2 linked regions of the Homo sapiens genome follow. The protein of the gene in region 2 purifies or fractionates together with the protein of the main gene of each other region. This does not show direct contact. Each region holds a gene or a part of one and is shown on either strand. Other genes may lie near its edges.

The links. Proteins that work in one complex are often made in the same cells at the same time.
Region 1: the proteins of ZC3H13 (region 2) and RSF1 fractionate together in Homo sapiens (co-fractionation; one large-scale study listed by BioGRID). This does not show direct contact.

Annotation. Positions count from the first base shown.
Region 1 is NC_000011.10:77,674,206-77,677,861, forward strand, and holds part of RSF1 (remodeling and spacing factor 1), read right to left. Parts: intron 2,795-3,656; coding exon 2,587-2,794; intron 1,052-2,586; coding exon 831-1,051; intron 1-830. UniProt on the Homo sapiens protein: Regulatory subunit of the ATP-dependent RSF-1 and RSF-5 ISWI chromatin-remodeling complexes, which form ordered nucleosome arrays on chromatin and facilitate access to DNA during DNA-templated processes such as DNA replication, transcription, and repair.
Region 2 is NC_000013.11:45,956,308-45,958,854, forward strand, and holds part of ZC3H13 (zinc finger CCCH domain-containing protein 13), read right to left. Parts: intron 991-2,547; coding exon 820-990; 3' UTR 1-819. UniProt on the Homo sapiens protein: Associated component of the WMM complex, a complex that mediates N6-methyladenosine (m6A) methylation of RNAs, a modification that plays a role in the efficiency of mRNA splicing and RNA processing.

The DNA.
Region 1 (3,656 bases), on a different chromosome or scaffold from region 2:
AACCAAAAAAAACCCACAAGGATGGCCAGAGTCTGATACTCATATCTATGGTTCTTCTCTAATAAGATGACACCTATCAATTTGCCAATTACATAAAGCATTCATTTCTTGTAGCGGTTGAGCCTCTATTTACTCACTTAATAGGGATAAGCATACTCTATAACAACATCAACTACTGTTAATCTGTAAAAACTACTCAACACTGACTGTGGTCTAAATGAGAGTTAACTTGTATTCTTCTCTCTCCAACAGCTGGGCATCTGAGGGAAATGTTCACAGTTTATTGAGAATGATTTCCAAGAAACCCTATGAAGATGAAGGTTTAGGAGTGGAAACATTTGACAACCAAGGAGTCATCACAATCCTACTAGGCATCTGATATGAAGTTAACGTATCAATCAGTATGTATTTTCTCAGATGTGCTTTCTATGAGAAAAATTTAGTCAGAAATAAGTCTTAAGAACAGAATTTTAAGAACTCTTAACTCCAGAAGTCATAAGAATTTGTTGAGCTGGCCAGCGTGCTGGCTCACGCCTGTAATCCCAGCACTTTGGGAGGCTGAGGTGGGCAGATCACCTGAGGTCGGGAGTTTGAGACCAGCCTGGCCAACATGGAGAAACTCCCTCTCTACTAAAAATACAAAATTAGCCAGGCATGGTGGCACATGCCTGTAATCCCAGCTACTTGGGAGGCTGAGGTAGGAGAATCGCTTGAACCCGGGACACAGAGGTTGCAGTGAGCCGAGATGGTGCCATTGCACTCCAGCATGAGCAACAAGAAAAACAAAAAATAATTTATTGAGCTACCATATGGTTACAGATTATTTTTACCAGAGTCTCTACTATTCTCCTCAGATTCCTCCTCTTCATCATCATCGGAATATTTTTTCTTTGGGGTCTTTCTTCGCAAACGCCTGCTCTGCCTCATTGGCCGAGAGGGGTGTCGCCTCAGTCTACGGCTACAAAAGTCAGTGTCACTGTCATCATTAGATGGCGGATCTTCTTCACTTTCATCTGGGTTTTCATCAGACACAACAAACTCATCTTGAGATCTGTCCAAGAGAAATCAGATAAAATACAATGGTATTTAGAAGAGTGAACCCATTTTTAAGAGTTCTGAGTTCAAATTCTGGTGAGCCCAGTGAATCATTAAGTATAGTGCAACATATCTGGATAATTGTATCAAATGCCCTATTTATAAAATGGGGAAAATGTTTTGCCACCTATCCTCTTAGGAGGGGTTGTAAAGATGAATTAATGTTGATTTCTGTACTGCTTTGACCTCTTGGGATGTCCCCCATGTTAAATTCGACATATTCAAAAGTGAATTCATTATTTCCCAATCTACTTCTCTCTTCTGTTCCCTGGCCTGGTATTTGGCACCATCACTCATCCGGTAACTCCAACCAGAAACGTGGTATTTATCCTAACTTTCCCCTTTTCATTTCTCATATCCAATAAATTAATAATTTCTCTAGAGTCTACCTCTTAAAAGATAATCTCTCAAACCTGATCTCTTCTGTTTTCAGCTTTTCATACTCACCTTAACTACAAAAGCAACTCCACAAATAGTTTCTCTAATATCTGGTCTCATTTCCCCTCAATCTATCCTCCAAATGAATGCCAGGATGAATCTTTCTGAAGCATAAATCTCATATTAATTTAGTGTTTAAAACCCTTCACTGGTTTTGTATAATTTTCAGGATAAAGTCAAAACACTTATGCATGACAAATAAAACACTCCCTAATCTGGCTCTTTTTATCACTTGACCACATCTCCAGTAGGGCACTCTCTACTTCATCCCCTTATTCCTGCTATCCAGAGCCAACAGGAGTTTCCCAAACATTCTATGACATTTTACGGCTTGCTGTCTTGGACATGTGACTTCTATGCTTAGAATACCTTTTTCTTATCCTGCTTTTAGTCTCATACTTGTTGATTCCAAATACTCATTCTTCAAATTTCAGATCAAGCTTTACTTCTACTTTAAGGTTTACTCTTTGGATTAAGCCAACTTTCCTCTGTAGCCTAATTTATCTTTCCCTGTATTTTAGTAGCAGTTATGCAGAATGACTTTTTTTTTTTTTTGTGGTTTATATACTTGTTTCCTCTTCTAATAATCTGAAAGGAGAAACTCTGCAGTATTGTTTCAATTCCAACTCTGCAAAGAAGCCTTTCTTGATCTTCTATACTGGATTACCAGTCCCAAGTCCAACTTCTATGAGTCATGAGAGGATAATATCTTATTTATTTTTCACATAGGACTGGAAACCCCTCATGGACCTGGCAGAAGGTGGCACAGAGGTACAGAGAAAGCTCTCAACAAATGAAAGTTTAATTGTAGTTAGTAAAATTTAAATACAATTTTGAATGTTAAACAACCATAAATCTATTTTCTGTTCTAAACTTTAAAAATGGGCCAAAATTAGTATTCTTGAATCTGCTTTAAATATCCTGAAAATAAACAGAGGTTGTCTATGTACATGAAGAAGAAAACCCTCATCACAGCATGGGCAAGCCTCTCTGCTAGCCCAGTCCTGTTCCTGCTGGTATCTAGGGATCGGGGCCTAGTAGGAGACCACACACCCATCACTGATCTTGAATTCATCCTCGCTCTCTTCTTCATCCAGGTTGCTATCACTGTCCAGATCATTTAATCGCCGGCGTTTCTTCCTTCGAGCAGCAGCTGCCCTCTGGGGTCGTTTATTTTCTTTTCTTTCTTCATCCAAAATAGTAGAGATGTCTTTCCCACGATGACCTGTGATGGTGGAGATATCTTTTCCTCGGCCAACTCCTGAATTTGGGGGAGGGAAGTTCGGGGAGAGAAAAATATGTGTTTATTAAAAGCTTCCCTTTAATTTCTAGAGACAGTCCTTATTCATGCTTAGCAGCTCTTCATTTCTTTATTTTCTTCCAACAAATATGCAGTTTTCTTATGACTTCAGCTGACAGAGGTCTCAGAGTTTTAGCATTCGTTTACCCTACTGAAGAGAAGTTTACTATGTAGGGAACCTCGTTTTTTAAATTTTTATATAATTCACACACCGCAATATTCACCCTCTTAAAGTGTACAATTCAGACATTTTTAGTATAGTCACAAAGTTGTGCAACCATCACCACTACCTAACTCCAGAACATTTTCATCACCCAAAAAAGAAACCTCATACCTATGAGCAGTCACTCAAGAATCTCTTCTTGAAAGCTGTCTTTTGGACAAGGCTTTAGAAAGAGGCCAATAGAGTTTTTAAAAACAGTGTTTGCAGGACAGAAAAAGTGAGAATTCAGCAGCAAAAATGTAAATAAAACATACATCTCTGGAAAAGCCTTAAACAATCTACTTATTAATCTTTTCCAGAGTTTTCATAATAACTAAGTAGAAACCAGAATGTTCCATATTGGAGCATTGGCTAATAGTGCTTTAATTAAATTACCTTCAAGTTCTTCTATTTTAATGCCACTTACTAAAGACTATGAAATTAAGAAACCAATTTTTAATAGGTTAACTTAAAAATTTTTGGTTTAAATTATTTTGGTTCTGATTATCCATAATTTTTGAGACTTTGTAGTCTCAAAGACAACTGAAAAGTTTCCTCAGTTTTCTATATGGAATCAGAAGTAAATTTTTTAACCTATGAAGGAACATCAATGTTTTATAT
Region 2 (2,547 bases):
CATCAACTCTGTTTAAAGCTGTCCAACAATAAGGACACAAGCAGTAAAATATCTGAAGCATGAAACATGTAATGTTGATGACTAATGTTCTAGATCATCAGGAATAAGATTAACGAAGAGCAAAGTAAATCTAAAACAAGGAAAGGGAAGATACATTTATTAAAAATAAAAATAGTACACAATCTCTGATAACAAAAAAAGCATTTAGGGTCAAAAGACATCCAACATACATTGTAACAATGCACACATATTAATTAAAAAAAAGACCCATGAAATAATTTTTAAAAAACTTTCAAAAGGAAAAAACTATTTTGGCTTCCTTCTGCTGAAATTCGCCTATAAACATACCACGCCAGCTAGACCAGCATTCCCTTTCACGTGGTCTGTACAACATAGTACTGCACAATGTGAGCAATTACTTTGATGAACACATTGTTTTTGAATAAAATTGTTGGTTCTGTATGGATGATCCAGACATAAATCCATGGTTCCATTTCACAAAAATATTCATAGGCTGGAAGAGCAGTGACAACCATTTTCCAAAATCTTCAGTTTTAACAAAAGGCGCAGAATAAACTACTAAATCTAGATGTTTTCACATTATTTTGCATGAGTGTCAAATACTATGTAAAAATTAACGTAAAATCTTAAGTTGGCCAAAACTAGTGTCTCTAAAGATCAAAATTCTTCACTCTTTTAGCATGGCTGATAAATCTTTTCTGCCTTTGTCACTAATGCTTGTCAAACCAAAGAACTTTGCAAAAGAATATGCACTGCTGAAGGAAGACAGTACCAAAAATACCATATTGAACTTCGGTCTTAAGACACACACAGTTCCTGTTGGATACTGGACTGTGAAAGTTTATTATCTTCAGTCTTTTCATGTCCTGGAGCATGGCAAGTAGTCTTCCGCTTAAATAACCGAAGACTCAATCGAAGTAATTCATTGTCTACCATTGGAGCACTCGTGTAAGCTTGTTTTATGGTGCCCTATTTGAAGAAAACAAAAACAAACTTTAAAAAAGATGTACATTATTAGTAGGAAAGATGGGCAGGTTAACCTCTACCCAAAATATCAAAGTTATAAGAGTATTTCATTTTGGATATTAAATTAGCTTTATTGGATTTCAAAGCAAAATTAGAAAATGTGTTTGGGCTCAATGAATCTTTGAAAAGAAACTTTTAGAGGGCACCTAGTTTAACCTCTTGCTTAAAGTAGGAATCCTCTCAACAATTTCTGACAGGTAATCAACCGGTTTTTACTTTATCATTTCCAATGACAAAACAAACAAAAAACACACTGCACGTTCTGTTGTTGAATGGCACTATTTCTTCCATGTGATGGAATAAAAGCTCTTCTATGGTGCTACACTGTAATTCAATCTTACCTTTACTTGACAATCCTTCAGTTCTATGAAGGTAAGTGCCATGAGTTCCTTCCTCACATAGTTTTTCCTTCTGTAAGCCAAACATTCTATTCTATACTCCTTACCAATCTTTCAATGTCCCATAAAAAGTGAGCTCGAAAACTGAATAAATCCTTTAGAAGACAGCTAATCATGCAGTATGCTGAAGAACTACTACCTCCCTTATACTAAAATATGTATCTATATTATTGTGACTTAAAGTTACATTAGCATTTTTTGGAAAGTTATTGTCATAGAGAAGGGACCAGGGAATGTTACAAAATACAAAACAAAGAAAAGTGCATACTGAAATCAGGGAGCAAAGGAGAATGACTGTAGTGATTCTGTCAAAAGTAATCTTGAACCAGACTTTTAAGTGAGGAAAACTTGATTATACAGTCAAGACATGTTTTAAAAATCTCCTGTTCCTCGTATTTGTTTCCATTTTAATCTTTGGAGATAAACTCATTCTTCTGTTTTTTAAAAATTGAATCCCCCCTACCCACTACCCTAAATCTGAGTATTTTTCTTTAATGAAGTAATCTTTTCTTTAGCAATGTTATATAGTCAAAGATAATTCTGTTTTCCTAACTGCCCCAAGTAAAAAGCTAGTGAAGTTAACCATTTTATCATTACTCTAAACTTTCTAAGCAAAGAATCACACCAACTCTCTTTTGTCATCCAGGTTGAGTAGTCCTCAACTGAAATGCTTTGGACCAGAAATGTTTCAGATTTGGAAATTTTTTTGGATTCTGGAATATTTGCATTACATTTACTTACCCAGTTGAGCATCCCTATCTAAGAATCCAAAATCTGAAATTCTCCAAAGAGCATTTCCTTTGAGGGTCATGTCGATGCTCAAAAGCTTCGGATTAGGAATACTCAGTCTGTACTACCTATACCCATCCACTCACCACCCCAAATAAAAATCCCAGTTTTTTTTTTTTTTTTTTTTTTTTTGAGATGGAGTCTTGCTTTGTCGCCCAGGCTGGAGTGCAGTGGCACGATCTCTGCTCACTGCAAGCTCCGCCTCCTGGTTTACGCCATTCTCCTGCCTCAGCCTCCCAAATAGCTGGGACTACAGATGCCCGCCACCATGCCCGGCTAATTTTTTGTATTTTTAGTAGAGACAGGGTTTCAT